3 separate regions of the Homo sapiens genome follow, and regions 2 and 3 are each linked to region 1. Evidence: fine-mapped expression QTL. A gene starts in region 1. Each other region holds a variant in brackets. All regions are shown on one strand. Distances are between the middles of the regions. Region 1 holds the start of OR2L13 (olfactory receptor family 2 subfamily L member 13). Region 2 overlaps OR2AJ1 (olfactory receptor family 2 subfamily AJ member 1). Region 3 has its middle 6.2 kb from the start of OR2AK2.

Region 1 (11,270 bases):
GTATCTGTACAGGCAAGAAGCAACATGGCTGGGACATCGCAGAAGAAATGGTCAATAGCCCTAGACCTGCAGTAGGGAATATGAAGGGCAAAGACTGTGTGTGCCAAGGAGTTGATGGACCCCAGTGTCCAAGAGCCTCCAATCATCTTCACACACATCATTTTACTCATGCGGATAGGATAATAGAGAGAGTGGCAGATGGCCAAATAACGGTCGTAGGCCATGGAGGTCAGGAGTAAGCCTTCAGAACACGCCATGGTCAGGAAGAAGAAGCTTTGCACACCACATCCCAGGAAGGAGATGCCTTTCTGGCCGGACAGGAAGTTGTACGCCATCTTGGGGACGGTGGTGGAGATGTACATCAGGTCCATAAGGGAGAGCTGGCTGAGAAGAAAGTACATCGGTGTGTGGAGACGAGGATCCACGTGGATGAGGTGAATCATGGCCGAGTTACCCACCGAGGCCAGAAAGAATATGAGGATGATAAGGCACAAGAGAAATATTCCAGTTTGATTTGGGGGAAGCAGACCCAACAAAATGAAATCATTTGAAGTGTGATTCCATTTCTCCATGAAAACTTTCTGCTGTAACTGTTGAAAGAGAAATAGAAACAAAAGCAAAGCACAAAACATGAAATAAAACACAATAGAAAAACAAAAAGGAACTGACTTTATCAATGTTTGTTTAGAATGAGTTGTTTCTCCACTAACACTGCAGGTTTTTTTTAATCAATTTCTATATCTGAAGCATATGGAGATTAGAGAGGATATTCACTTTCTGTTCTTATAGTTTGATTTTCATTACTGTAGATGACAGCAGAGTCAAGCAGCTACAAATCTATTCAACTGGAAAAGCCAGTGTGAGCAGTAGAACAATTGTAATTTATGGCTTAAGCATGTCTTCCAATTTAATTAGATAGAACAACACAATTAAATGTTAATAATTGAGAATAAAGAAATCAAGCAAACAAAAATAAATAATTTTCCCTCCCTGGAAAGTTTGTCTAGCTTTTTATGCCTAGGCTTTTCCTTGGGAATTTTTATTTATGACTTTTAGAATCTCTCTTTTTCTCTTTACACCACCCCAAATCTGGCAGTTTGTTTTTTTCTTCATGCAGTTTCCCAGGTATTCGTAAACTATATTTCTAACATCTGTGTGACTTCTTCCTTTACCTGGGCTTGGAGTGAGAGGTCATGTTTTGTGTGTGCTCTTCTGTCTGAGGCAGACACTGATGTCTCATCCTGCCCAGCATATTGATTTGGTTAGTCATCTTGGGTTACTGATTTTTCAACTTTTGCTGTTCAAAAGCAAATCATAGTTTGTTGCAATTATTCACATTTAGGAACTTAAACTCAACTGTTAGTTCATATAACCTTGGGTAGCATGAATACAATTGTGAAAGAGAGCCTGCCACAGGAAAAAAAATGGAAATTCATTTCTATAGCTGTCTAAGGAATAAACACTAACAATGAAAAGTTGGGAACATGACAGGTGCACAGTAGCATTGGACTTGGATGCCAAATGGGATCACAGGCACTCTCTGCTTCTTATAGTGCTTTAGAAATAAAAACTGATCAGAAAAAAACATGAAAACCATCATTATGATACATTCATTTCCTCAAATAGTGTTCACTGAATTTATGTTTTATGACAGTGCTGCTAGCTACTGATGTGCTTTGGTGATGAAACACAAAGGATTTTAGAATATGTAATTAAAATTGAGATAATTATACAAACAATAGACCAACAAACTCAAACATACAGTGATGTTATGTAGTGATTACGATTCTATAGAAAAATAAAAAAGCAGAGAGATCATTGGATTAAACAAAGGAATTCAAAAAGTATTCCAAACGACTTTTCTAATTTCCAGGGTATGTATGATAAAGATTGATTTTGTAACTCATGTGGCTTCATTCTATCAGTAAGAACTATCCTAGTAATTTAGTTCCAAGCAAATATTTGATTAATTTTATCAGATTAACATGTTGACAGCCTTTGATGCAGTAGTCACTGAGTGAGGCAGTGGGGATAGAATGATTCATCAGGTGCTGTCCCATCCCCAAGTGGGCGACCAACTGTCCTGATGTGCCCAGGCCTTAGGGGATGCCCAACATGTCCTGGAAATTGGAAAAGCCTTTTGTAGTGCTTTCTGAATTCCTTTGTTTAATCCAGGTTTAAATCCAGGGGAAGAAAGCTGCCAGCATGATCCCATGAGGTGTATCCAATACCGAGCCCTGAACAAGCTGACTTGGGTGTAGGTTTATGTGTTCCATCCTGGAGTTGTTTTGAAGAGAGACATTTTGATTCTTTGTTGCATAGACTATAGCTCAGAGTATTATAAAGATTGTTTTATGGCAGTTACTACAATAATGATTTTGTTTCCAAAAATGGAAAAGTGGCATGTTGTTAGGCAATGGAAGAGAATAGTTACTTTTAGGATCCTGTGAATCTGGGACTTGGAGATTTTAGGTCATGGGATATTGGAGTTTGAGTTTAGGATCTATTTCCATTGATGTCCAGCAGCTTTCCTTGTTAGACATGGGACCTTATTTCATGCACCAGAATTACATGAAGCATCATTCTGTCGGTTACCTTATAGCTGGGAAAATGTTGTTCCTGTGGCTATCAGGTGAGTGTGAGATTAGTGACTGCCTTGGCCATCCTTGTTGACTTAAAGAACGACACTAAGGCAAAATTAATACAGAAAGTTTATTTGGGCCAAGGTTGAGGGCTGCAGCCCAGAAACACTTCTGTGGCAAGTAACCTGGAGAACAAGAAGAGACCCAAGTTTTTAAGGTAAAGAAAGGGAGGAATCAGGAGTGGAGACAAATTCTAAAGTTATTTATCAGCAAGTCTCACTGGTTTCAGAAACAACATTGATCAGTGATTGGTTATGCATTATTTAACTATAGGATATGTGGTTTAGGGGATTGATAGGTTAATTCATGGTTAGTTGCCACAAGTCAGTCCAGAGCCCCCATAGCACGTAGATTCAAGAGATGATTACCTAGCTCAAGAAAGAGTGAGATGTGACTGCGGCCACATTTCAATCTTGCTGGGCCTGATAATTTAAAGGGGGCTACTTATTCCTCAGATAAAAAGTTTATTTTCTTTCTCATTCTAAAAGATACGTTGCTGAAATTTATAGAGTTAAAAAACACCTCATTTCACAGAAACTAACAATGTAAGTGTAGCAAGTGTAGGGTCCTGAATTTATTTTGCAAAATTACAATTAGTGAATGCTTCTTAAAACTCTTTTAAACAATCAGCAGGAGACCAATAGCAAATAGTCATAGACTCAGCTCCCTCAATCTCAACAACGTATAGGACAACTATAAAGAGAATTCACAGTTCTGTGTGTTCAGCACATAGTAGGTCCTTAGTAATTGTCACTGTCCTTTGCCCATTCCCTGTGTTAACCATGGAGAGCCCTCACGCCCTGAGAAAATGTTTTTATTAATGTCACATTGTTTGAGAGCTGCACATAGTGCAACTCTAACAAGTTCATGTTACCTTTTTTTACATTTTTAGTTCACTCTTGGTTTTCATTTTTTTTTTTTTTGAGACAGAGTCTCACTGTGTCGCCCAGGCTGGAGTGCAGTGGCCTGATCTTGGCTCACTGCAAGCTCCGCCTCCCGGGTTCACGCCCTTCTCCTGCCTCAGCCTCCCCAGTAGCTGGGACTACAGGCGCCCACCACCACGCCCGGCTAATTTTTATTTTTGTATTTTCAGTAGAGACCGGGTTTCACTGTGTTAGCCAGGATGGTCTCGATCTCCTGACCTCGTGATCTGCCCACCTCGGCCTCCCAAAGTGCTGGGATTACAGGCATGAGCCACCTGGGTGCCCAGCCTTCTTTTTCAATTTGTTATGGAACTGTCTATTCCCTGTGCAGCAGAGAGTTTCCTGATGATAGGAAAACATTTCCAAAAAAGCTTTCTAGGATAAAGCCGACCCAAATCAACTCAATTCAGTTATATTACTATGACTCACTTTGCCCGAAGTTCTTCAGTTTATATAGTGGTATAAAAAGCAGTTTTATGGCCAGGCGCAGTGGCTCAGGTCTGTAAGCCCAGCACTTTGGGAGGCCAAGGCGGGCGGATCACGAGGTCAGGAGTTCGGGACCAGCCTGACCAATATGGTGACACCCCATCTCTACTAAAAACACAAAAATTAGCCAGGCGTGGTGGCATGCGCCTGTGATCCCATCCACTCGGGAGGCTGAGGCAGAAGAATCACTTGAACCTGGGAGGCAGAAGTTGCAGTGAGCTGAGATCGTGACCCTGCACTCCAGCCTGGGTGACATAGTGAGACTCCATCTCAAAAAAAAAAAAAAAAAGCAGCAGCTTTACAGTGACATCATAATCTGCAAACATTCCATATAATTATTTAAAACATGTAAGCATCAAACTATGTTCTGATAGTATATCAGGCTATCAATAACATTATATCACTGATCAATAGGCTCTGCATTAAACCAAAACTCTTTCTGAAGTGAGAATCTCTTCTTTATCTGCCAAAATTCATGAGGAAGAAACACCAGGTAACACTTTATAATATTCATTCCTTACAGCTCCCACAGCTAGTCATTGTCTTTATGGTGAAATCAGAAAACAACTTCACCAGCTCTTGTGAAATATTATCCTGTTTGCATATGCAGTGTTTAGATAAAGTCTCTTCCTTTCCTCTTACCTTGTTTCAGTGAGAACAGAATAAGGCATTTTACACTGAAGTCTCTCAGGTTCCACCATTGGAAGACAGAAGGATGAATGGCTATATTTTACACACAGAACCTTAAGTCACCAACCCTTAGATATTCCTCTTTCTCCTCTAATTGATCTCCAGTGTCCAAGTCCACGGGGGCCAAAACCTTGGTCACTTCACTTGACTTTGCTGATTTGGGGATGAACTCAAATTCTGAACTTAAAGCAAATCAACCAACCCAATCAACTTTGCTGCATTCAGCTGCTACCCAGAATCAGACTAAAGAGGGGTGTATTTAATATTCCAGTACATGATTTCAGAGCTATAGAAGATGTTAAATTATGTTTATGGAAATTCTGTCATCATGTAAGTTAGAGAATTCCGGATTAAAAAAGTGCAGGAACCACTTACAAGTACTCGACTCAGTAATAGCAGAACTAGTCCCAAGGATAGTTTCCTGTCCACTCTTTAGTGAGTTTCCAGGGGGAATGATTGATGATTGTGACTAAATTAAATTATACTAGGATAAAACACTTCCTTCTACTTGTTAGGTGGGGGTAGATAATTGATACATGACAATATATATCCATTTAGCTATTCTACTAAAGTGAAAGCTGACTCTTAGAGACAATGTGATAAAATGAGCATTTAGAGTCAGAGAGAATACTCTAGTCTGACAGCTATGCCACTAATTAGGAAGCTGAGTTGGGAAAATTACTTAAGATTTCAGCCTGTTACTAATCTTTACAACTGGACTAATTTGAGGGACATTCTAATAATTAAATAGAATGATGTATGCCAAATGTTTACATAGTGTCTGTTGCAGAGGAAGGGCTCAATCAACTGTAGCATCTCTTAACCTCTTTAATCCATACATTGGTTAACTAGAAAAGAACACTTTATTTGGGGTTATATTGTTCTTTTTTTATCTTTGAAGGCACTAACTGCTATATTTTATGTCAGAAATTAGAAATAATGCTATAAAATTAATATCCATGTTCTTTGTTTTTTTCCTTTAATTTTTTAGAATTATTATGATTATCTAATGGTTGCATATATTCATGAGGTACATGTGATGTTTCAATACAGGCATTCAATGTGTAATGAGCAAATAAGGGTATTTGGGGTACCTATTACCTCAAGCATTTATTAATTTTTTCTGTTAGAAATGTTCCAATTCCACTTTTAGTTATTTTGAAATATACAATAAATTATTGTTAACTATAGTCATCCTGTTGTGCTACTACATTCTAAGTCTTATTCATCCTAACTGTATTTTTGAGCCCATTAATCATCTCCAGTTTATTCCCCACTCTACTCTACTCTGCCGAGCCTCTGGTAACAGTCATTCTACTATATTTATTATTTTTTAATTTTAGCTCCCACATATGAGCAAGAATGCTCAAAGTTTGTCTTTCTGTGCCTGGCTTATTTCATGTAATATAATGGATAATGAAAATTTACTAGATACATAGAACACTATTCAACCATAAAAAAAAATAAGAGTGAATTCCTTTCATTTGCAACAACATGGATGGAACCGGAACTAAAGTAATGCTGGATTCTTGAATTATCTTGGCACCCTTTGTCCTAGGAGATGATGAGATGAGACTCAATAAATACTGGATGCAAATACGATGAAGTACGAAACTGGACAAAGCCATTCTAGTGCTTTAAATAAGAAGAGTGGACCAGTTATGATCACATACAGATTTTTTATTGCTCTTGTTAGTCTTTGGTAACTTCTATGTTTTTCCCTGCTGCAATGTGGTGCTGCTTGCATTTAACTCAGTGCAAAACTCAAACCCAGGTAAAACTCATTCTCAGCCTGTTACCGTCCCTGTAAGATCCATACACAGCAATGAAACGTGACTTGAGGAAAGTCCAATATATGATGATGCATCTCACCTCAAATTTATGACAATACATCTCAGATTTATGAATACAAATCTCATGGCCCTTTTGCCACGTCACAGTATGTTCTTGTTCTCTGCAGACTTTCTCTGAAAAGTAGTGATCCATGCCTCCTCCTGCTTTCCCCAAACCTTACCCCACTTCCACATCTCTTAGACTCCTCTGGGAAAAATAAACAAACCTGTTAATAAAACAATCAGATTTCAAACTTTTCTTCCATGAACTGTATCAGCCTCCCTCATTCTGTACCATATACTCAGCCTTGTTTCCTGTGACAGCGTATGAAATGACCGTGCTCCTGCCTAAACCCACTCTCTACTTTTGCACAAGGCTCAGCCCCTCTCAGCATCTCCTTTTTACATTTCCATTTCCATCTTCATCTGCACAGAAACATAAATTCTTTAGAGGAAAATATGGCTGTCAAAGATTCAATCATACTCCTTGGAGGCTCTGACCAAAGATTGAGCATCTTTTTCTTTCTGCAGAGATGGAAGTTACTCATTAACAAGTTGGAGCGGTGATGGATATTATAGACAAGGGGTTTCAGTAGGTGCGATCAATTAAAAAAAATCCAGGATGTAATGAATTACTCTGTGATGGTGTCTCCATGAAGCCTGGGAGCTTATAATGAGTTTAGAGATTCTTTACAATTTCTTAGTGACAATAAAGTTTTGGTTTAACCAGTGTAACCCTTCTAAGAAGACTGTGAGGCAGGTATAATTTGTGAAAGTCTGTTTTATAGACCAGAATGTGGTGTACTTTGATGAGTGTGTATTCTAATGTTGTTGAATGGAGTAGTCCACAGATGTGAAATAGATCCAGTTGGTTGATGGTGCTGTTCAGTTATATTCTTACTGTTTTCCTGCCTCTGGATGTATCAGTTACTAACAGAGGGGTGCTGAATATCCAACTTTAATTGCAGATTTATGTATTTCTCTTTTGTTGTCCTATATGTTTTTGCCTCATCTATTTTGACATTATGTTGTTAGGTACATACACATTAAGTATTAATATGTATTATGTAGGAAGTCTTAGCCAGAGCAATTAGGCAAGAGTGAAAAATGAAAAGCATTTAAACAGGAAGGAAGGAAGTCAACATATCTCTCTTTATAGATGATACCATTCTATATCTGGAAAACCCCATAGTCTCTGTCCAAAAGCTCCCTGATTTGATAAATAACTTCAGCAAAGTTTCAGCATACAAAATCAATGTACAAAAGTCAGTGTCATTTCTATACACCAATAGCAGCCAAGGTAAGAGCCAAATCAGGAGCTCAATCCTATTCACTATGGCCATGAAAAGAATACAGCTAATGACGGTGGTGAAAGATCTCTACAATGAGAAATATAAAATGCTGATCAAAGGAATTGGAGAGACACCAACAAATAGAAAAACTTTCCATGTTCATGGATAGGAAGAATCAATATTCTTAAAATGGCCATACTGCCCAAAGCAATTTACAGATTCAATGCTATTCCTAGGTCAAACTATCAATGACATTCCTCACAGGATTAGAGAAAACAATTTTAAAATTCATATGGAATAAAAATAAATAAATAAAACCCAAATAGCCAAGACAATCCTAAGCCAAAAGAACAAAGCTGGAGACATCGCATTACTTGACTTCAAACTATACTACAAGGCTACAATAATCAAAACAGCATGTTAATGGTACAATGACAGATGCATAGACCAACGGAACAGAATGGAGAGCCCAGAAATAATGCCGTACACCGAGAGCCATCTGATTTTCAACGAAGCCAACAAAAATAATCAATGGGGAAATGACTTCCTGTTCAATAAATGGTGCTGGGATAACTAGCTAGTCAAATGCAGAAGATTGTAACTGGAACCCTTTTTACATCACATACACAAATCAACTTCAGATGGATTAAAGACTTCAACATAAAACCTAAACTCTAAGTACTCTGAAAAATAACTTAGGAAATGTCATTCTGGACATAGGACCTGGCAAAGATTTTACAATGAAGATACTAAAATTGATTTTAACAAAAACATAAATTAACAAGTGGAACCTAATTAAATTAAAGAGCTCTTGCATAGCAAAATAAACTATCAAAAGAATAAACAGACAAACTACAGAATGGGATAAAATATTTGCAAATATACATGCAACAAAAGTTTACTATCCAAAATCTATAAAGAAATTTAAACAAATCAAGCAGAAAACAAACAGCTCCATTAAAAAGTGGGCAAAGAATATTAGTAGACTCTTTTCAAAAGATGACATCCATGTTGCCAATAAGCATATGAAAAAGTACTCAACATTACTAATCATTAGAGAAATGCATATCAAAACCACAATGAGATACCATCTCATAACCAGTCAGAATGGGTATTACTAAAAAAATCTAAAAATAACAAAAGGTGAGGATGCAGAGAAAAGGGAACGCTTATACACTACTGGTGCAAATGTAAATTAGTTCAACTATTGTGGAAAGCAGCTTTGTGATTTCTCAAAGAACTTAAAACTGAACTACCATTCAAGCCACCCATCTCAATATTACTTGCATACCCAAAGGAGTATACATTGTTCTACAATAAAGTAACCTGCACATGTATGTTCATCACAGCACTATTCACAATAGCGAAGACATGGAATCAACCTACATGCCCATCAATAGTAGATTGGATAAAGAAAACGTAGTACATATACACCACGAAATACTATGCAGCCACAAAAAGACTGAGATAATGTCCTTTGCAGCAACATGGATGAAGTGGAGGCCATTAGCCTAAGCAAACCAACCAAGGAACTACAAGCCAAAAACTGCATGTTTTCATTATAAGTGGGAGCTAAACATTAAGTACACATGGACACACAGACAGGAACAACAGACACCGGGGCCTACTTGAGGGTGGAAGGTGAGAGACAATGAGAAACCACCTACTGGGTACTATGCTTATTACCTGCATGACAAAATAATCTGTACATGAAACCTCTGTGACCTACAATTTACCTGTATGACAAATTTGCACATATACCCCAAAAACTAGAAATTAAAAAACATACTAAACGAAAGGGTTCAGGGAGCTTCTGTGTTAGCAAACACATTTACATACCCTGAGAGTGGCACACCCCAAGTCCACAGAGATGTTACCAAACGAAACTCAAGTCAGCCTGCCTGATACAGCAAAGTCAAATGCTGACATGGGGATTGCAGCAAGAGAAAGGGAGGAATTTATTACAGGGGGGCAAGCAAGGAGAAGTGAGCAGCTAATGCTTAAGACCTGAACTCTCTGATGGATGGCTACAGGTAAGTTTTTAAAGGGAGGGAGGAAGAGGTTACAGGAAAAGTCATAAATCAATATATGGAGGTTATACATGGGTTTAACCTGAAAAAATGGGACATCTCAAAGTGGGGGGCCCACACATCATAGGGAGATTCAAAAATTTTCTGATTTGTGATTGGTTAAGGAAGTAAAGCTTTGTCTAAAAAATTAGAGTCAGCAGAAAACAATGTTAACTCTCATCCATGGGTGTGACTTCCTCCAGGACCTTCAGGAAGAAATTCAGAAGAAAACATGGTTGTCCGAGCTCTGTCCTCAGTTCCTCCTTATCTGAGGTCTATGTGCCAGTAGAGCTATTTAGTGGGATTCCAAGTTTCTGAAAAACAACTCAGGGACAAATGTTAAGCTGTTATCTCTAGTTTTTATAAAGGAACTAAGTACCCTGTGATTTTAACTTCCTTGGCTATTGCATTAGGCTATAATTATCTTCTTGCTTATGAAGTTGCTCATTTATTTCTCAGGACTAGCTAGGTGCCTGGAATTTCCCCGAAGGAACTTAAGCTTTTCCTTTATCTCTGCACTTGGAGGAACTTACAGGTCACTAAGAGGGCTCCCTGCTCCATCTCAAGCCCCATGACTCAACTTCTGGGGAGGTGGGGGCTGGAGATTGAGTTAATTACCAACAGCCACATTAATGCCTATATAATGAAGCCACCATAAAACCCATAATGACAGGGTTCAGGGAGCTTCTGAGTTGGCAAACACATTTCCTTGCCCAGAGGGTGGCACAGGAGCTCCTGTGCTTGGGACCCTTCCGGAGCTTCCCAGATGTACCTCTTCATTTGATTCTTCATTTGCGTCCTTTATAATAAACTATAATAGCAAGGGTAGCATTTTCCTCATTTCCATGCTTCGTTCCAGCCAGTTATATAACCTGAAGCAGAGTAGTTGTGAGATCCTCCAAGTTTGTATCCAAATCAGGTAGAGGTAACCTGGATATCCCCTACTTGAGACTGGCATCTGAAGAGAAGGCAGTCTTGTGGGATTGACTCCATCAGCATCTGGAGTCTGATGCTCCAGACTCCGGTCAGTGTCAGGATTAAATTGAATAGTAAGACACCTAGTTGGTGTGAGAGTTGGAGAAGCGGTATTGGAAAAGACACTGTGAATTTGATTTCAAAAAAAAAATTCATTATTTTTGTTTTGTTTTCCATTAGTATAAAACTGGTTGATATCTAATATGGCATGGACAGAAGTTCTTTACATGTCTACTTGACAAAACAACTTCACAGATTCTGGGCTGTAATTTATGGTAAATGGCAAATCAAACACAGAAGCATTCACCCAGAGCACTAAATAGTCTTTGAGCAGGACTATTAAACACCGAAAGAACAGGCT
Region 2 (11,270 bases), 160 kb after region 1:
TAAAAACCCAGAATTTAGTTTTATTCATTTTGTGAGGATGGTTTCCAGATGATTTGCACCCATGAGTTTGAGACCAGTCTGGGCAACTTATTCCAATTATTTTTAGGCCCAATATGTAAGTGAGATCATGTAGTTTTTTTGTGTATGTGTGTATCTGAAAGCCAGTCTGGATTGAAGGACAGAAAGAAAGGAAACCAAGACTGGTACTGGGAGGCTACAGTCATAGTAACACAATAATTCCCAGTATTTACCAGCTTGTGAGACCAAATGGGAATTAATCATGATTGGGATTCTCACTAGGAAGGCTCCATGCCACAAAATCTGAAACATACAGAAACTTTAAGATGCCGAAGAGAATAAGAGACATTCCTGTATCCCTGCCACACATTGTATTCATTAATGAAATGAAGAGACAGCCTTTGTACACAGCTCTGAGTCACACTCCATCACTAGGTTCTATAGGTACCAATGCTTGTCCATTTGTTTCACAAATTCTTTCATGACAAGGTCTCTCTCTTTCATGACAAGGTCTCTCTCTCTCTCTCTTTTTCTCTATCTCTCTCCATTCGGCGTCTGTCCAAATAGCACCACAGGAATTTGTTGGTTTAATTGAGGAATCAAGACCAAAATCCATCTATTTTTTTCATCTTCCATGTCTATTTCTCCAAGTATCATGCATATAACAAACTTCTTACATATTCCATATCTCCTTTACAATGACCATGTAAATAAATAAATGAGGGGCATGGTAATGCTAGTTCATCAGAAAGTCTAGTATCCATTCACCATTCTTTATATATCTAAACTCTCTTTTGACATGCCTCAGAGAGCAAACCTTTCAATATCTATGATATAACCCAAATACTTACTCCTCTACCTGACTTATAAGTCTCCAAAATTAACAGCAACAAAATAAAATTGATGAGCAGGACCTAACTAAATGAAAGAACTTCTGTGCAGCAAAAGAAACTACCAACAGAGGAAACAGCCAACCTACAGAATAGGAAATAATATTTGCAAACTAAGCATCTGACAAATATCTAATGCCCAGAATATATAGGGAAGTTAAATAAATCAACAAGCAAAAAACAACCCCATTAAAAAATGCACAAAGTACATGAACAGACACATCTCTGAAGAAGACATACAAGTGGCCAACAAGCATACGAAAAAATACTCAGCATCACTAATCATCACAGAAATGCAAATCAAAACCACAATGAGACACCATTTCATACAAGTCACAATGGCTATTACAAAAAATTTAAAAAAAAGCACAGATGTTGATGAAGCTGCAGAGAAAAGGGAATTCTTATATGCTGTTGGTGGGAATGTAAATTAGTCCAGCAGCTATGGAAAGCAGTCTGGAGATTTCTCAAAAAATTTAAAAAGGATACCATTTGACGCAGCAATTCCATTGCTTAGCGCGCGCACACACACACACACACACACACACGCACGTATGCACACACACACACAAAATCATTCTACCAAAAAGGCACATGCATTCATATGTTCATTGCTGCACTATTCACAACAGCAAAGACATACATTCAACCTAGGTGCTCATCAACAGTGAGTTGGATAAGGAATACCTATAGGTTTTCTGTTAAATTCAACCCAAAACTTTGATAACAATTATTGTTACTGTCTTAAAGTTTCCAATTATAGAAGGCAAAGTAACACTTTCACCCATTAAAGCTTGCTATGATACCTTTATATTTTGTTAAATACTTTATGATATTTATTAAATATACAAAATCTAGTTAACTTGATAAAATTAACTTAAAACATTTACCTCATTAAAATGTTTTTCTAGTTTTTCCTATTAATAAAACCATTTAAAAGTATTCCTAATAGAAACATTTATTTTTCTCTTTGCAATAACTTTTAGGATAAATTGTTAGAAGGGTTTGTAAAATATAAGCCTGTATGTATACATGAAATAAGACATAATTTTCAGGATATTCTTAAATATTGTATTCATGCTTCCAACAAAGAATGAGAAACTTGATTTGACTACAATCAATGTATGTAAGTATGTGTATGTATATATGTGTATGTGCATGTATTTTTCACTTGAGGAAACTAAAGTGTCAAAACAAACCATTCAATGAATAATGGTAATTTCAAGTGGAGTTGTAGATTTTTGAAAAGAAACTGATTGTGAGACTTGAAATACAATTTTAGGAAGTTTCATAAAAACACAGATATTATATTAGTACATGTTTTTAATATAATGGTTTGATTGTATTTCAAATGTAATTCTTATATATTCTTACAATTTTAGTGGGAGGGTGGTGGAAGCCTTAGGTTATCTTTGTCTTTCTAGAGTGTGTTGAGTGATTGAAATCGGTACCCACAAGAGGAACAATACATTTTTAGACATGCATTGAAAAAACAAACATATGTAAAAACTTTATTATTATTGGGGTTTTGAAAATATCCACATCTTTCTACACTTAGAAAGACAGAAGGTTCGGTTTTCTTTCCAAAGAAACTAACAACACTCTATAGACATTGAATGTGGAAATAGAGGGAATACACAAGTGAAAGGAATTTTCCTATTCTTTTTTTTATGTAGAATGTTGCTCTAGAGCATATTTTTCATTGCCACCAGAACACTGTCAGTGCCAACGCTGTAGACGACAGGATTGAGTGTAAGTGCAAGGAAAGCATAGAATATTTCTAGAAACTTAACCTGGCCTGAAATGTGGATGATTTAAGTCTCATATACATATGTGAAAATGAATGAGTCCCAGTATGTTACAACTGCAATCATGAGGATGGACCAAGTGGAAAATGACCTTTTCCATGCCTGTGATAATTTCATCTAGAGGACACCTCACAGAATTTGGACAGAAGAAGCAGAAATCATAGAGAAAGGAATGAGCAAAAATATGATGCTGCTTACATTAACTCCTCATTCACCCTCTAGTGTTTCTACATAAGAGAATCTGATGTAGATATAAGAATATATATTTCTTTCCTAAAATAAGTTTCAATTTGTTTACTTACTAAGCCAGGTAGCAGTTTATTAAGCAGAATCGATTTACTTAGGCACTATAGAGACTAGTGGCTAATAGCCTCTTAAACTCTCTAAGCGAATACAAAATTTTACCTTATTTTGTCTAATTAATGTCTTGCATCCTTTACTTATAGCATAAGAACTCAATAGAAAAAGCTGCGTTTCTTCTCAAATGAATTGCCACAAAAGTTTAAAGGACATATCCAGCTACCAGCGACCTACAACGGAATGTTCAAAAGACTATGTGTATCTCCACCACAATACCCAGGTATCTGAACACGCACCACTACAAATGCATGTCTTTAGATTGTGATAGGCTTTACCTTTAAGCCTAATTATTTCTATGTGCAGTACTTTAGGTATGTGGTTAATGTTTAAAATATCTTACTTTCCACTTCCAATTTCATCCAAGTATGCTTTACAATCCCACACTGATTGAACCATGCTCTTTACACTCTTTATTAAGAAAAATATATGTGTGTGTGTCAGTGTGTATGTGTGCATGTGTGTGTGGGCATGTTTATTTACATGAAGTCTTCTACTACCCTCAATGTAGGCGTTTCTATGTTTCTATATCCCCAACAGGAAAAAAATGTTTTTTAGCCCTATCACAGATTATTTTTGTATTTTAATCTGGAAATTTGTAAATCTATGAATTCTGACTTCTAAACTTCTATATCATCCTCAGATCTGTTCAGCAGAATGACTTTCTCTTGCTTACAATAATATCTTGCTATTCGGATTTTTACTGTCTCTGATTTCATGCTGCTCTTGGGTCCACATTAGGTATTATTATGAGTTGTAAAAGCAGGCTTTAAAAAAATACAGCACCTGATGCATCTAATATTAACATTAGCACTTCCAGTCAATTTTGAACGTCTCTTAGCAATACATTTTTATATATCATTATATTAGTAATTTTACTCATTCTCTACTGAAATAAAACTCCTTAGCACACCAGGGATAGGAGACTGTTACAGGACTGGAATCAAGTAAAAAAACTCAATTGTCAGGGAAAAAATGTTATTAATATATAATAATTGCTTATTTTATGTCTAAATTATGAACATTAAATAGTTGTATTATTAGAAGATAATTTCATAGTTTATTTAAGGTCCTTAATATATATTGCCACACTGTTCTTTTTAAAATGTTTGTACCATATTTCATGTATGCCTACAATATGTTATGATGTCCAATTCACCAAAATATGGTTAACATTTATTACTATTGTTTTTAATTTTCCAATTGTGAAAGGCTAATCATTTTTCATTAAAGTTTCATATATATCTTCATATTTTGTTAAATATTTATTTCTATAGTATAAAACATTTAGTTGGCATGCTATAATAAAATTAACCTGAACATTTATTTCATTAAAATGTGTTTTTCTAGTTTTTGCTATGAATAACATTACTTAGGGGAGAGGCGCTCAGGGGAGTGGGTCCCAGCGGCAGCTGAGCCTGGGAGAGGAGGCCCCAGAGCCAGCCCCATCCCTGAGCTGCTGATGGGAGGGGAGGAGTCCCCTGAACCAGCCCCGTAGCTGAGGGGTTGATGGAAGAGGAGGCCCCAGAGCCAGCCCCATCCCTGAGCTGCTGATGGGAGGGGAGGAGTCCCCTGAACCAGCCCCGTAGCTGAGGGGTTGATGGAAGAGGAGGCCCCAGAGCCAGCCCCATCCCTGAGCTGCTGATGGGAGGGGAGGAGGGCTGACAGTCGGGAGCAAGAAGGGAGACTGCGGTAACC[G/A]CCCCGTCCCCAGGGGGCCTCTCGTCTGATACCTCGGTCTGGAAGGCGTGCCCAGCTGCCCTTCCGCAGGAGACACCAGTGTGTAGAGCAGAGCCCTTCCTTTCGAGAGGGTCTTCACGCTCTCATCGTGGTCGGCGGTCGCGGGAGAGGGGCCCTCCTGGACCCGCAAGCACGCCCACTACTGCCAAAGACGCCGCGGCTGGTCTCGCAGCAGCGCGTCCTCCGGCAGCCCCAGCGAGTGAGCCCGGGGCTCGGGTGCGGAAGATGATAAAGAGGCTCCACCTGGTGGCCGCAGCGGGTCCTGAAGGAGCGCGTCCTCCGGCAGCCCCAGCGAGTGAGCCCAGGGCGCAGGTGCGGAAGATGATAAACAGGCGCCACCTGGTGGCCGGGTCGGTGATTGGCCCCAAGAGCAATAAAGACAAGTGGGAACCTGGGCCAAGGCGCCTGTGGCAAGGGGGTGAGTGCTTGGACCCTGCCAGAAGGACGTCTCGGGTTGCCGGAGGGTCATCTGCAATGTGGGCAAGCACCGGGAGGCGGCACCGCCAAAACTCAACGCTCTCGAAAAAAATAAACGAGAAGGACTAAGAGAACCAGCTGCTGTGCGTCTTGGGGTGTGACTGGTTCACCCTCCGCGGTCCATGCATATCACCTTTGAGCTCCTGGGCAGGAAAACCCTTGAGTTCCCGAAGGAGAATAACATCCAGCCATTCCCCTCCCACATGTCTGGCACATGGCCCACCAGCTCTGCCACACCCTTAGATTTCTGCACGAGAACCGGCTGACCCACGCACACCTGAAAACCGAGAACATCCTGCATGTGGATTCTGAGTTAAACACCGTCTACAGCGAGCACAGGAGCGATGAGAAGTCAGTGAGGAGCACCAGCGTCCGAGTGGCTGACTTCCCCAATGCCACCTCTGACCGTGGGCACCACATCGCCATGGTGACCACGGTCACTGTCGCCTGCCTGAACTGATCCTTGATCTGGGCTGGACACGCCCCTGCCATGTCCAGGGCATGGGCTACCTTCTCTTTAAGTACTACCAGGTTTCACACTCTTCCAGACCTGTGAAAACCAAGAGCGCCTGGTGATGTTGAAGACCCTACGGCTCATCCCATTACGCGTGATCTCCTGTACCAAGAAGCAGAAATATTTCTACAAATGGGGCCTAGTTTGGGATGAGAACAGCTCTGACAGCCCATATGTGAAGAACTGCAAACGTCTGAAGAGTGACATGCTCCAAGACTCTCTGGAGCACGTGCAGCTGTTTGACCTGATGCGGAGGGTGGTAAAATTGGACGCTGCCCAGCACATCACTCTGGCTGAGACTCTTCTGCACCCCGTCTTTGCTGGCCTGGCAACCTCAGTCGTGGTCCTTCCACACAAGCCACAACCCAAGCAGATGACAGACGCAGGACACTGCATGAGGAGAGCGGAACTGGGCTGCCCAATCCCCATTCTCCAGCCCCTACCACCAGGTCCCAGGACCAGAACCACACAATGAGCAGTGCAATGTGAAGGAAGGCAGGAGCCTGCGGGGGAGCAGACTTGGTGCCCAGCTGCCAGAAGGCAGATTTGACTCAAGCTGTTCATACGTGTTTTTTGTTTTTGTTTTTGTTTTGTTTTTTGTTTGTTTTTTTGAGATGGAGTCTAGCTCTGTGGCCCAGGCTGGAGTGCGGTGGCGCCATCTTGGCTCACTGCAAGCTCCGCCTCCCGGGTTCCCGCCATTCTCCTGCCTCAGCCTCCCGAGTAGCTGGGACTACAGGCGCCCGCCACCACGCCCGGCTAATTTTTTTGTATTTTTAGTAGAGACGGGGTTTCACCGTGTTAGTCAGGATGGTCTCGATCTGCTGACCTCGTGATCCGCCCACCTAGGCCTCCGAAAGTGTTGGGATTACAGGCGTGATCCACCGCGCCTGGCCCATACATTTTAAACTTACAAAGTGTGTCTTAGTGTTTGTAAAAAAAAAAAAAAAAAAAAGGAAAAAAATTAAATGAATTCTCAATAGAAATATTTATTATCTTCTTTGAAATAACTATTAGGATAAATTGCTAGAAGAGTTTGTAAAACATCATCCTGTATGTATAAATGAAATAAGGCAATTTTTATGATATTCCTATCTAATATTGTATAGTTGCTTCTAGCATAGGATGAGTAATTCAATTTTAACACAACTTATATCTGTATATATGTGTGTACATATATATGTGTGTGTGCATATATATGTGTATCTGTAAAATTTTACTAAATAAAGGTGTTGATAAACCAGGCAAAGAATAATGATTTCATATGGAATTTGTGAATTTTTGATAAGTGATTGTTAGCAATATAATTTAACAAAGTTTTATAAAAATAAACATGGATTTGTCTTTTATACAATGGATGTGTGACTGTATTTTTAGGGATATTCTCATAAGTCTTACAATTTTGGTGTTAGGGAATAGGACGCCTTGGGTAACTTCTACTTCCTGTAACTGTTGCATGATTATAATTGGTACCACAGAAGGAACACTACATTTTTAGAGGTACGTGTTTACAACACAAACACATATTATTGTTTATTATTAACAATGTTTCTGAAATATTCACTTCTTATATGTGGTAAGATAGAAGCTTTGATTTCTTTCTAGGAAACCTCTCATGAGTATCCTTCAGGCATTTAACATAGAAATAGACAGAACACACATTCAGGAATTTTCCTATTCATTTTTTTGTGCAGAAAGTTACTTTTGAGCATATTTTTCATCACCGCCAGAACATCTTTATTCCTAAAGCTGTAGATGAAAGGGTTGAGTGTGGGTGTGAGGATCGTATAGAATATTGCCAGGAACTTATCCTGGCCTGGAGTGTGGTATGATTTAGGTCTCATATATGTAAAAATAAATGGCCCATAGTACATCGTGACCACAATCATGTGGAAGGAACAAGTGGAAAATGACTTTTTCCTTGCCTCTGATGATTTCATCTGGAGGACAGTAAGAATAATTTGGCCATAAGAAGCAGAGATCAAGGAGAAAGGGATCAGCAGGAAGATCACAGCACTTACACAAACCCCTCGTTCATAGCGTGTTGTGTCTGCACAGGACAACTTCAACATGGCAGGGACTTCACAGAAGAAGTGATCAATTGCCCTAGAGCCACAGAAGGGAAACTGCAGTGCATAAGCTGTGTGGACTGTGGAGTTGAAAACCCCAATGAGCCAGGAGCCTCCAGCCATGAGAGCGCTGGCATACTCCTTCATAAGAATCGGATAGCGCAGCGGGTGACAGATAGCCACATAGCGATCACAGGACATTGCAGCCAGGAGAAGGCACTCACCACCCAGGAGGGTGAGGGACAGAAATACCTGGAACCCACAACCTGCAAATGAAATAGTTCTGCTGCCTGACAGAAAGTTAGTGACCATTTTGGGAACGATGTTGGAAACATGCAAGATATCCATTAAGGAGAGATGGCTGAGCAGAAAATACATTGGAGTGTGGAGTCGGGAGTCACTGCGAATGAGGAGGATCATGAGCGTATTTTCTGTTACACTCATAATGAAAATGACAAATAAAACTAAGAAGAAGACCACACTTGTTGGGGAAGAAGAGAACAATCCCAAAAGTATGAAATCACTGCTGAAAGTGTGATTCTGATGGCCCATCATGAATTCTCTATTTTTTAACCTAAAAAGAAATAATGAATTAATAATAAAGAAAAAATATTAGTGTAAATCTTAATCTAACAATAATATACCTGCATAATAAAATGAGAGTTAGTGATGCATGTTTTGTAATCAACATCAAAATACTCTTAGCCAGTTTTTGGAGTGGGCATGTTTTACAAGCTGGGCATTTCTTTCTTCAAATAATCGATGATATTCAGTATATTGAGTGGGCCCTTGGCTCCATCTTGAGTCTCATAATCTTAATTAATTCCACATAATTTACTCAAATCTACTCTTTTCTCAAATGTCACTTTCCCAAGGAGGCCTATCCTTGCACACCCTTTAAAAAATTGTAGGGCTCCCACTTAAACCCTAATTTCCTGGTCCTCCTTGCTCTGCTCCATTTTCACATGTTTGCATGTCACTTTTCACCTTCTAGTACATTAAATAATAAACACACTGGTTATATTTACTGTTTATTTTCATTCTATGCCAGAATTTTTACTTCACAATGAGAGATCCTTGTTCTGATCACTGGTATAACCAACTGCCTGGAACAGAGCCTAGTGCATAGCAGTTGCTCAAGAATGTTGAATATTTGAATGAAATGAATGAACTGTGGAACTTGTCTTTCTGTCTATTGCATTTATTATTTAGATTAAACTTATAGAAAATAAAATGTATAATTCTAAGACTTTCCAAAATAATAAGTAATGAAATATTGTCACAAAACTCAATATGTTTATAATTTGAAACACTATATTTTAAATGTAAAAAATAGAAGTATCATCTAGTCAACATCAACAATGTGTCTTTAAGGTTGTATTTCATATTTACGTGTTTGGTTAACTTGTTGAAATTGAAGTATAATGTATTAATTCTATATGTGGGATAGTAGGTGTTCATATCATTTATTTATATTTTGATAGTGGTTACTTAAATGTTTACATAAGAGTTATTTGTGCACCTTCTGTATGTATAACATTTCCCTCAATATGCATAAATACATACATATATACTTTCACATATTAATACGTAAATTATAAAATTTATAAATACATTAGTCCAGGTTTCTGTCTTTCAAGATGCTTTATGATCATCAAAACAAATAACAAACATTAAAAAATTATTTTCCATCTTATTAACAACTACTTGTTTGAATAAAATGAGCTTAGATTTTCCCTTTTGTAAAATAAATGCAGAAGTATGTCACCGACAATATATAAATGATTATTTTAATTTTTGTGAATATTGAGATTCTTCATAAACAGATCACTTAATCCTATTTTAATTTCCTTGAATAACAACAGTTGTGTGCTATGACCTAGAAGAGTTAGAAAAGATAAGCACCTCAATGAAGTTTATAAATGTATGTGTAATTAGTCCTGCCTGTTTTTTATGTTGTTGTTTTGTTTTGTTTATTTGTTTTTGAGACAGAGTCTTGCTCTGTTGCCCATGCTGGAGTGTAGTGGTGTGATCTCAGCTCACTGCAACCTCAGCCTCCTGGAGTCAAGCAATTCTCGAGCCTCAGCTTCCGAGTAGCTTGGAATACAGGCACCACTACCAAACCCGGCTAAGTTTTGTATGTTACTAGAAATGGGGTTTCACCATGTTGGTCAGGCTGGTCTCGAACTCTTGACTTCAAATGATCCACCCACCTTGGCCTCCCAAAGTGCTGGGATTACAGGCGTGAGCCACCGCACCCAGCCATTCCTTTCCGTTTTGACTGTTTTGACCCACAGCTTTGTAAAATGTGATGATACACACAGATTCAGACTTCAGGGCAGTGGTGCCCTGCATGAGCTGATCGTAAATAAATTTACAAAATCAATAAACACTGCTGACAACTCAAATCAACACACCTATATCCGAAGTTAACTTTTCCCCACTCCCTGGAGTTATATCATTCTTCTCGTTTTACTTGTTTAATCAATGATTTACTTTATTATCATAATTCCATGCCCTACTGAATCATATGTCCTTAGCTGACTTCTGGCCCATTTTAGGTCTCATTAATTGCTTTTTACAAGAATGATTTAATTGTTTTAGTGGTCTTTGATGTAAAAATATTTTCAGCTATGCATAAATTCTCCTTCTCTGTATTTCATACTGGCTTTTACATTTTTTAGAGTTCATATCATCTACGCAATAATACCTGTATTTTTTCTTCAGAAATTGGAAGCAATCCACAATTTATTTCTTATCTCCCTCATCATCTTACTTCCAACACCATATGTCCACTACTATGAGGCACCTCATATTTCTGCAACTTTTTTTCATATCTCTTGGCTTAACCAGTCAGTCAGGGATCTGAAATATACTCCCATGATGATGGAATGATTCAAGAAAGTGTATCCTCTATGTTACCCAGGAGTATTTCAATTTTGGGTGAAATCTGCCATTGTATGCAAAGAGAAATGCTCTCAATTCCGTGTTTGAAAGTGGAGAAAATACGTGTCACCTATCCTATAGCTTGTTCCCCACACAGGAAACTCTTTGACGAGGTAAAGTTCATTTATCACCCATCTAGCTCCAAGTATACCTTGTTAATAATATTAAATGTTGGAGAAAAATATACACTCTACATCCATGTCTTTTCTATAAGCCTGGAGATTAATCAGAGAACATGCTCTCCTCAGGATTTTGTCTTAAGTTTTTCAGCTTTGTGGCTCTGTAATTTTTAGGAAATTCCTAGTTTCCCAAAAGTCTGTTTACATCTTTATATATACTTCAAGTTTTATCATTTGGAAGAAGCAGTCAGGCAGGTCAGTCTGAAATTTAACCAGTGTACATTATACTTCACATAAACTGAGCATAAAAGAGCCACTTTGATTTGAAGAAACGCAGG
Region 3 (11,270 bases), 140 kb after region 1:
AAAATAGTCAGAAACTGAAAATGTCCCAAAGTAGAATGAATTAATGAACTATGCTATGTTAATATAAAATAGAGTATTAAATATTATTCTAAAAACCAGAGAAATGTAAAGTAACACCACCATGCACTATATATACCAGAATTGTGAAACTTTAAAAATAATAAAAGAAATACACAGAAAAATTGTGTGGATGATAAATTTGATCATTATGACTTCCAAAGTCTTCCAATAGAGTGCAAATTTCATACTCTTTGGAAGTCATGTGTTATTTTCTAGTAAATTTGGAATTTACTTGTGCTATAACGCAGCAGTTCCTGGGTATATAATCAATTAGAGCTTTGCACAGGAAGACCAGTAGATTTCTATAGCCATCTCCATTACAGCATCAGATGTGATAGAATCCAAATAGGTGCCCATCAATCCTGATATGGCTAAACACACTGCAGTAAGATGACACAATGAAATATTATATGTCAATAAAAATGAGAGACAGGAATGTGTCATAAACACAAAACTCACTGGAGGCCAAACTCAGTAGAATAAGTGGTTTAAAATTAATGTACACTGTTTACACATTTCTTTAGAACTTATAAATAAAGTATGAAGAGTATTACTACAAGATAAGATAGTAATTACATTCAGGTGGAAGGAGGACTTTTTGTTTGGAAATGGGAATGCAAAGGGCTTCTGAGCGTGCTGACATTGGTCTATATCCTGAACTGGCAAGTGGTCACACAGGTGTTCAATTTATCATACCTTGTTTCCTTGTGGTTATCTTGCCTATGGCTATGTGTGTGTATGTGTTTTAAATTTTACCATAACAACATTAATAAAAGTAAGATGCAGAATAGTAATTAATAAAAATAATATATGGTCATATATGTGTCTACCTATGGAATGATACACAATGAACTGGAAACCCTTTTTGTACTAGAGAGAGGACAGAGGACATATATGAGGAATGCAGATTGGAAAGAAAATCAGCCTAAATTCTAAATGTTTTTCTAATTTTATGCTTATGTTATTGTCATATATTAATTACTTATAACTATGCCAAAATTAACTAAAACATAGACATAAGAAAAAGGCATATCTCGATTATACTAAAAATCTGAAATCTGGAGTTTCAACCCAAGCATGTATGTTTTTCAAAATGCCCTTGAATATTCCTGAGATAGGAATTCAGCCGGACTTGTTTCAAAAGATACAAGGAACAAAGACTCCACTGATAAAACAGGATGTGGTAAATAAGCTGACTGAAACCTACCAAAACCATCATGGCAATGAAAGCCACCTCTGGTGGTCCTCACTGCTCATTATAATTAGAATACATTAACATACCAAAGGAAACTCCCACCAGCACCATGACAGTTTACAAATGCCATGGCAAAGTCCAGAAGTTACCCTATATGGTCTGAAAAGGTGAGGACCCCTCCGTTCCTGGAACTCCCCTCACCTTTCCCAGAAAACATGAAGAATTCACTCCTTGTTTAGCATATAATCAAGAAATAACAACCCCAAGTATGTGGTAAGCTCATGCTGCTACTCTGCCTATGAGTAGGCACCTTTTTATTCCTTGACTTTTCAATAAACTTGCTTTCACTTTACTCTGTTGGCTTGCTCTTGAATTCCTTCCTGCATGAAGGCAAGAACCCACATGGCATCCCGGGCTGAGCCTCAATTTTGCGGTTTGCCCTGTGATAATCTGACTAGAACATTTGCAAGTCCAAACTTATCTATTTCTTCAATTTATTGTGTATTGAAATTTGAGTCTTATTCTTAAAAAAAGAAAATACATGTATTATTTAGAAATTAAAGAAAAATAATTTACAAGAATAATAATATGAGCAAGGAATTGCATCAAATATTTTTGTCATATTTAGGAGTATTTTTCCTGGATTTCTTTAAAACATGCAACTATCTAGGAACAATTAAATTTGGCGATTTGTAGAAAGTCAATTAAAACTACCTGGGAAGATACAGTGCAACTATATTTCTAACAAAGCAGTTTATTAGGAGGCCAAAAAGATGTTTTAGCTGATAATAGTAAAAGTAGACACTTCTGCTATAATGTGATAGTTAGATTTTCAAAAAAGTTTACGCTGGTAAAACTGCACATTGAAAAGGTGAAATTTATAGGGCAAATAGGGATAAACCATTCAATACTTATGAGATATTTAATCAGGTCATTAACTCTAACTTGTGATAAAATTAGTAGCCCTGATGAATTTCTACTTGCAGTTTAAATCAGTGTCACACAGCCAGTGTCTGCTTCCTGACATTCAGCCCTTCTCCTTCTCCTGGAGTCAATACTTTCTTCTGTGAATGGTAGATACTTGTATTAATTTACTTTCAATAGTCTACTGAATCAGTAGTTAGCATCTGATCCCTGGTAGCTGTCTCCACTAATTAAGATTTAGCACCAGGGAAATATCTTTGCAATTACCTAATTGGCACTCTAGTCTCACCAGTTTACAATTATAGAATTCATAGAGGATACTGAAGGTAAATAACCCACTACTTCTGGTAAAGGCACAACTTCTGTGAAATTTTTAAGTTTACTCAGTATATTTACATATTTCTTAGACTTTCTCCTCTGGGCCAAAGCAAAAAATTGGACTCCATTCTGAAAATCTGGAAATCTGAGATGGAGGAGGGGAGGGATCATATGATCACACTGGAAGCAGCAACGAAAATAGGTTCTCCCTGACCAAATTGGCCCCCTTCCAGTAACTGTTCTAATCTTTACAAGTAAGATTCTGAATTTTTAATGAGTCAAAAGTTAAAAATCGGGTGGCTCATACATTTTCAGAAACACACGAGAATCAGGCTTTTTTTTTGGCCTTTGCCAAAGTGTGTAATACTGAGCTCTGCTAGCTACCAAATATCCAAAAATGTAAACTGCATTTTATCCATGAAATTATTTAAACACCGTCTGGAAAGACACCCCAAAGTTCTACCCAGTCATTGCCTCCCAATAAAAACACAGGGAGTCCTCCTCTTCAGGTCCAGACATGGCTTCTTTCTCTGGATGTGGATCCTGATCTTGGGACAAATTTCTGACCCAATATTGTCCATGATCCCTGACTCTACTAGGAGATATTTCCTTGTATATTATCCATGGTCCATCTGAACCGGACATCGGAGTCTTTGCCTTCCTTGAATCTAGGCAGTTCAATTAGCCTGCTTCCCAAAGGGCACCTTACTTTACCATCACAAGCCTTACAAACAGGCTTGTAGATTACTTATCATTACATTCCCATCCTTTCTCATCTATCTGCCTCAAGTCAATTTCATGAGCCACAGTCCACATGCCCAATTCCTTCCAAGACCCAGTTCTCAATACTATCTTCTTACAAATACTTCCTCAAACCTATGCAATGTGGTCTTCCTTGAGGTTACTTGACCTGACAGTTCTAGGCTGGAGATTATGCCCATTTATCTGTCTGTGTCCTGGTGATGTGTGGAATTTATTCCAGGCTCATATTGGGCATTGTGCATAATGTGTGTATACCAAGCCTGATTCTTCTGTGTTTCTGAAAATTTATGAGCCACCCGATTTTTAAAAATGTTTCTTTTATATCTCAATGAAAATAAATTTTCTGGAGGTGGAGCCAAGATGGCCGAATAGGAACAGCTCTAGTCTACAGCTCCCAGCGTGAGCGACGCAGAAGACGGGTAATTTCTGCATTTCCAACTGAGGTACCGGGTTCATCTCACACAGGATTGTCGGACAGTGGGTACAGGACACTGGGTGCAGCACACTGAGCGTGAGCCAAAGCAGGGCAAGGCATGGCCTCACCTGAGAAGTGCAAGGGGTCAGGGAAATCCCTTTCCTAGTCAAAGAAAGGGGTGACAGACAGCACCTGGAAAATCGGGTCACTCCCACCCTAATACTGCACTTTCGAATGGTCTTAGCAAATGGCACACCAGGAGATTAATCCCGCGCCTAGCTCAGAGGGTCCTACGCCAACGGAGCCTCACTCATTGCTAGCACAGCAGTCTGAGATCCAACTGCAAGGTGGCAGCGAGGCTGGGGGAGGGGTGCCTGCCATTGCTGAGGCTTGAGTAGGTAAAAAAAAGCAGCCAGGAGGCTCGAACTGGGTGCAGCCCACCGCAGCTCAAGGAGGCCTGCCTGCCTCTGTAAACTCCACCTCTGGGGGCAGGGCATACCTGAACAAAAGGCAGCAGAAACCTCTGCAGACTTAAAGGTCCCTGTCTGACAGCTTTGAAGAGAGTAGTGGTTCTCCCAGCATGCAGCTGAAGATCTGAGAACAGACAGACTGCCTCCTCAAGTGGGTCCCTGACCCCTGAGTAGCCTAAATGGGAGGCACCCCCCAGTAGGGGTGGACTGACACCTCACACGGCCTGGTACTCCTCTGAGACAAAACTTCCAGAGGAACGATCAGGCGGCAACACTTGCTGTTCACCAATATCCGCTGTTCTGCAGCCTCCGCTGCTGATACCCAGGTAAACAGGGTCTGGAGTGGACCTCCAGCAAACTCCAACAGAACTGCAGCTGAGGGTCCTGACTGTTAGAAGGAAAACTAACAAACAGAAAGGACATCCACACCAAAACCCCATCTGTACGTCACCATCATCAAAGACCAAAGGTAGATAAAACCACAAAGATGGGGAAAAAACAGAGCAGAAAAACTGGAAACTCTAAAAATCAGAGCGCCTCTCCTCCTCCAAAGGAACGCAGTTCCTCACCAGCAATGGAACAAAGCTGGACGGAGAATGACTGACGAGTTGAGAGAAGAAGGCTTCAGATGATCAAACTACTCTGAGCTAAAGGAGGAAGTTCGAACCCATTGCAAAGAAGTTAAAAACCTTGAAAAAAATTAGATGAATGGCTGACTAGAATAACCAATGCAGAGAAGTCCTTAAAAGACCTGATGGAGCTGAAAACCAAGGCACAAGAACTACGTGACGAATGCACAAGCCTCAGTTGCCACTTCAATCAACTGGAAGAAAGGGTATCAGTGATGGAATATCAAATGAATGAAATGAAGTGAGAAGAGAAGTTTAGAGAAAAAAGAATAAAAAGAAATGAACAAAGCCTCCAAGAAATA[T/C]GGGACTATGTGAAAAGACCAAATCTACATCTGATTGGTGTACCTGAAAGTGACGAGGAGAATGGAACCAAGTTGCAAAACACTCTGCAGGATATTATCCAAGAGAACTTTCCCAATCTAGCAAGGCAGGCCAACATTCAAATTCAGGAAATACACAGAACGCCACAAAGATACTTCTTGAGAAGAGCAACTCCAAGAAAAGCAAATGTCAGATTCACCAAAGTATAAATGAAGGAAAAAATGTTAAGGGCAGCCAGAAAGAAAAGTCTAGTTACCCATAAAGGGAAGCCCATCGGACTAACAGCAGATCTCTCAGCAGAAACTCTACAAGCCAGAAGAGAGTGGGGGCCAATATTCAACATTCTTAAAGAAAAGAATTTTCAACCCAGAATTTCATATCCAGCCAAACTAAGCTTCATAAGTGAAGGAGAAATAAAATACTTTACAGACAAGCAAATGCTGAGAGATTTTGTCACCACCAGGCCTGACCTAAAAGAGCTCCTGAAGGAAGCACTAAAGATGGAAAGGAACAACCGGTACCAGCCACTGCAAAATCATGCCAAATTGTAAAGACCATCGAGGCTAGGAAGAAACTACATCAACTAACGAGCAAAATAACCAGCTAACATCATAATGACAGGATCAAATTCACACATAACAATATTAACCTTAAAAGTAAATGGGCTAAATATTCCAATTAAAAGACACAGGCTGGCACATTGGATAAAGAGTCAAAACCCATCAGTGTGCTGTATTCAGGAAAACCATCTCACGTGCAGAGACACACATAGGCTCAAAATAAAAGGATGGAGGAAGATCTACCAAGCAAATGGAAAACAAAAAAAGGCAGGGGTTGCAATCCTAGTCTCTGACAAAATAGACTTTAAACCAACAAAGATCAAAAGAGACAAAGAAGGCCATTACATAATGGTAAAGGGATCAATTCAACGAGAAGAGCTAACTATCCTAAATATATATGCACCCAATACAGGAGCACCCAGATTCATAAAGCAAGTCCGTAGAGACCTACAAAGAGACTTAGACTCCCACACAATAATAATGGGAGACTTTAACACCCCACTGTCAACATTAGAAAGATCAAAGAGACAGAAAGTTAACAAAGATATCCAGCAATTGAACTCAGCTCTGCACCAAGCGGACCTAATAGACATCTACGGAACTCTCCACCCCAAATCAACAGAATACACATTTTTTTCAGCACCACAACACACCTATTCCAAAATTGACCACATAGTTGGAAGTAAAGCACTCCTCAGCAAATCTAAAAGAACAGAAATTATAACAAACTGTCTCTCAGACCACAGTGCAATCAAACTAGACCTTGGGGTTAAAAAACTCACTCAAAACTGCTCAACTACATGGAAACTGAACATCCTGCTCCTGAATGACTACTGGGTACATAACGAAATGAAGGCAGGAATAAAGATGTTCTTTGAAACCAACAAGAACAAAGACACAACATACCAGAATCTCTGGGACACATTCAAAGCAGTATGTAGAGGGAAATTAATAGCACTAAATGCCCACAAGAGAAAGCAGGAAAGATCTAAAATTGACACCCTAACATCACCATTAAAAAAACTAGAGAAGCAAGAGCAAACACATTCAAAAGCTAGCAGAAGGCAAGAAATAACTAAGATCAGAGCAGAACTGAAGGAAATAGAGGCACAAAAACCCTTCAAAAAATCAATGAATCCAGGAGCTGGTTTTTTGAAAAGATCAACAAAATTGACAGACCACTAGCAAGGATAATAAAGAAGAAAACAGAGAAGAATCAAATAGATACAATAAAAAATGATAAAGGGTATATCACCACCGATCCCACAGAAATACAAACTACCATCAGAGAATACTACAAACACCTCTACGCAAATAAACTAGAAAATCTAGAAGAAATGGATAAATTCCTCAACACATACACCCTCCTAAGGCTAAACCAGGAAGAAATTGAATCTCTGAATAGACCAATAACAGGCTCTGAAATTGAGGCAATAATTAATATCTTACCAACCAAAAAAAGTCCAGGACCAGATGGATTCACAGCCGAATTTACCAGAGGTATAAGGAGGAGCTCGTACCATTCTTTCTGAAACTATTCCAACCAATAGAAAAAGAGGGAATCCTCCTTAACTCATTTTATGAAGCCAGCATCATCCTGATACCAAAGCCAGGCAGAGACACAACAAAAAAAGAGAATTTTAGACCAATATCCCTGATGAACATCGACGCAAAAATCCTCAGTAAAATACTGGCAAACCGAATCCAGCAGCACATCAAAAAGCTTATCCACCATGATCAAGTGGGCTTCATCCCTGGGATGCAAGGTTGGTTCAACATATGCAAATCAATAAATGTAATCCAGCATATAAACAGAACCAATGACAAAAACCTATGATTATCTCAATAGATGCAGAAAAGGCCTTCGACAAAATTCAACAACGTTCATGCTAAAAACTCTCAATAAATTAGGTATTGAAGGGACATATCTCAAAATAATAAGAGCTATCTATGACAAACTTACAGCCAATATCATATTGAATGGGCAAAAACTGGAAGCATTCTCTTTGAAAACTGGCACAAGACAGGGATGCCCTCTCTCACCACTCCTATTCAACATAGTGTTGGAAGTTCTGGCCAGGGCAATCAGGCAGGAGAAGGAAATAAAGGGGATTCAACTGGGAAAAGAGGAAGTCAAATTGTCCCTGTTTGCAGATGACATGATTGTATATCTAGAAAACGCCATTGTCTCAGCCCAAAATCTCCTTAAGCTGATAGGCAACTTCAGCACAGTCTCAAGATACAAAATCAATGTGCAAAAATCACAAGCATTCTTCTACACGAATAACAGACAAACAGAGAGCCAAATCATGAGTGAACTCCCATTCACAATTGCTTCAAAGAGAATAAAATACTTAGGAATCCAACTTAGAAGGGACGTGAAGGACCTCTTCAAGGACAACTACAAACCACTGCTCAATGAAATGAAAGAGGATACAAAGAAATGGAAGAACATTCCATGCTCATGGGTAGGAAGAATCAATATCATGAAAATGGCCATACTGCCCAAGGTAATTTATAGATTCAATGCCATCCCCATCAAGCTACCAATGACTTTCTTCACAGAATTGGAAAAAACTACTTTAAAGTTCATATGGAACCAAAAGAGAGCCCACATTGCCAAGTCAATCCTAAGCCAAAAGAACAAAGCTGGAGGCATCACGCTACCTGACTTCAAACTATACTACAAGGCTACAGTAACCAAAACAGCATGGTACTGGTACCAAAACAGAGATATAGACCAATGGAACAGAAGAGAGCCCTCAGAAATAATGCCGCATATCTACAACTCTCTGATCTTTGACAATCCTGACAAAAACAAGCAATGGGGAAAGGATTCCCTATTTAATAAATGGTGCTGGGAAAACTGGCTAGCCATATGTAGAAAGCTGAAACTGGATCCCTTCCTTACACCTTATACAAAAATTAATTCAAGATGGATTAAAGACTTAAATGTTAGACCTAAAACCATAAAAACCCTAGAAGAAAACCTAGGCATTACCATTCAGGACATAGGCATGGGCAAGGACTTCATGACTAAAACACCAAAAGCAATGGCAACAAAAGCCAAAATTGACAAATGGGATCTAATTAAACTAAAGAGCTTCTGCACAGCAAAAGAAACTACCATCAGAGTGAACAGGCAACCTACACAATGGGAGAAAATTTTTGCAATCTACTCATCTGAAAAAGGGCTAATAATATACAGAATCTACAATGAACTCAAACAAATTCACAAGAAAAAAACAATCCCATCAAAAAGCAGGCGAAGAATATGAACGGACACTTCTCAAAAGAAGACATTTATGCAGCCAAAAGAAAAAAAATGCTCATCATCACTGGCCATCAGAGAAATGCAAATCAAAACTACAATGAGATACCATCTCACACCAGTTAGAATGGTGATCATTAAAAAGTCAGGAAACAACAGGTGCTGGAGAGGATGTGGAGAAATAGGAACACTTTTACACTGTTGATGGGACTGTAAACTAGTTCAACCATTGTGGAAGTCAATGTGGCAATTCCTCAGGGATCTAGAAGTAGAAATACCATTTGACCCAGCCATCGCATTACTGGGTATATACCCAAAGGATTATAAAACATGCTGCTATAAAGACACATGCACACATATGTTTATTGTGGCACTATTCACAATAGCAAAGACTTGGAACCAACCCAAATGTCCAACAATGATAGACTGGATTAAGAAAATGTGGCACATATACACCATGGAATACTATGCAGCCATAAAAAAAGATGAGTTCATGTCCTTTGTAGGGACACGGATGAAGCTGGAAACCATCGTTCTCAGCAAACTATCTCAAGGACAAAAAACCAAACACTGCATGTTCTCACTCATAGGTGGGAATTGAACAATGGGAACACATGGACACAGGAAGGGGAACATCATACACCAGGGCCTGCTGTGGGGTGGGGGAAGGGGGGAGGGATAGCATTAGGAGATATACCTAATGTTAAATGACGAGTTAATGGGTGCAGCACACCAACATGGCACATGTATACATATGTAACTAACCTGCACGTTATGCACATGTACCCTAAAACTTAAAGTAAAAATATATATATATATATTGAATGAATGAATGAATGGCAAATTTCAGGTTATTTAGTGCAACATACTGTCAGAAATAGAAGTTGTACTGTATACATAATTGTAATTTTGAGAAAGTCTTAATGTATACATAATGATGATCTTTTTCTAGCAATTTTCAAGTCGTATTCTTATCTTCCTCCTGAACATGATGAAAACGTTGGCATGCTTTAAATATCCACTGATTATCCTCCTTATCTTGTTATGCAGAAATTCAGTTTTGCATTTTTAAACACATGAAATAAGTTACTAATTTTGTAGTCACTAGCAATTAAATCTAGCAGTACTCAAAAAATCAAAAAAAAAGAAAAGACATTTTATATTTCACTTTCAATTAAGGACCTTGATTGATACAATCAGATTTTTAATGTCAGTTTAAATTTAACTAGAAAACCCTATGAAAAGTAAGGGCAGTGATCCCAGGGATTTAGGAATATAAATGTATTTTAAAATATTTAGCAGACAAAATTAAAAGGATCTTATGTTGAATTTGTGGTAATGAGACAAAATAGCAGAGATTAAGTCCCAAATGTCAAATTGACCTCCATCCAATTTGTGGAATCCATGTATATATCTTTGCATTTTCTTACCATGCTGTAAGTACTGAATAATTATTCAGTAATTGAAAAGATATTTAGCCTTTAAAAGTCATTGTCTATTTTTTTCCAGATTTAAAAGGCAAGTAAAAAAAATTTAGTAGTGGTGGTTGACATAAATCTTACAAAAGGAAGCTACTTATTACTTCTGTGGAAACATGAGGGATCACCTCCACCTCACCCGCTTTATCTCCTATGTGAGCTTTCTGCCCAGGTATAGGAAACAAATTGATACAAGATGGATTAATGAAGGAAAAGCATATGAGTTTTATGCATTTCACATGTACATGGGAATCCTCACAAGAGTGTGAAATCTAAATAAATGGTCAAAGCAAGATGTCTTTATACTTTTAGAAACAGAATGATAAATTGCAGAAAAAATTACAAAGAAAAAAAAAGAGACACTGGCTCGAAACCATAAATTCCAGGGGAGTCCCTAGGAGGTATATGGGGGTGTAAAGATAGTGAAAAATAAGAGTTAATTCTGGTAGTTTATTTATTCAGGTACACTGCATTCCCCCAATTCCCAGGCTGTAGTGATAAGGGCTATTTTATATTCCATTACAGGGAGGGTACCGAAAGAGTATTAGAATGTACCAAAGACTCCTGGAGGAATCTTTAGAGCTTGCTGCATGCCAAAAAAGACAGGTCAGATAACCTCTTCCTCTAATGTTAACCAAAATTTCTTCAATGTTTTCAGCTCAAACTAATAAATATGCCAACTTAGCATATTTGTGGATGGCATATCATTCATTCCTTCAATTTACCCTATTTGACTATTGAACCACAGCTCTATTTGACTATTGAACCACAGCTTCTTGTGATGAGAAAGATACTCATCCTTTAAAATAGAAAGAATACTCATGTCCCTTTCCATAAATCAAATTTTGCTAATGTAATACATAAGAA

The links. PIP is the estimated chance that this variant, and not a neighbour inherited with it, causes the effect.
Region 2: its variant is fine-mapped to the expression of OR2L13 in whole blood (TOPMed, PIP above 0.99). The same link has a PIP of 0.9 or more in blood mononuclear cells and putamen.
Region 3: its variant is fine-mapped to the expression of OR2L13 in cerebral cortex (GTEx, PIP above 0.99). The same link has a PIP of 0.9 or more in nucleus accumbens.

Annotation. Positions count from the first base shown.
Region 1 is chr1:248,088,678-248,099,947 of GRCh38, reverse strand. OR2L13 (olfactory receptor family 2 subfamily L member 13) reads right to left here and starts at 4,764. Exons shown (of 3, transcript NM_001395936.1): 1 at 4,694-4,764; 2 at 1,173-1,297; 3 at 1-590. The coding sequence starts at 572. It overlaps LOC105373275 (a long non-coding RNA gene), which reads left to right and starts at 4,406. Exons shown (of 4, transcript XR_949369.3): 1 at 4,406-4,544.
Region 2 is chr1:247,930,918-247,942,187 of GRCh38, reverse strand. OR2AJ1 (olfactory receptor family 2 subfamily AJ member 1) reads right to left here. Exons shown (of 2, transcript NM_001355235.2): 2 at 6,849-8,441. The coding sequence starts at 8,419. The coding sequence ends at 7,433. It also overlaps the pseudogene CLK3P2, a transcript of OR2L13 not described here and the pseudogene OR2X1P. Among named protein-coding and RNA genes, the nearest start is that of OR2AJ1, 12 kb to the right of the region's middle. The variant G/A (reference allele first, on the strand shown) is at 4,772.
Region 3 is chr1:247,953,422-247,964,691 of GRCh38, reverse strand. It overlaps a transcript of OR2L13 not described here. Among named protein-coding and RNA genes, the nearest start is that of OR2AK2, 6.2 kb to the left of the region's middle. The variant T/C (reference allele first, on the strand shown) is at 5,076.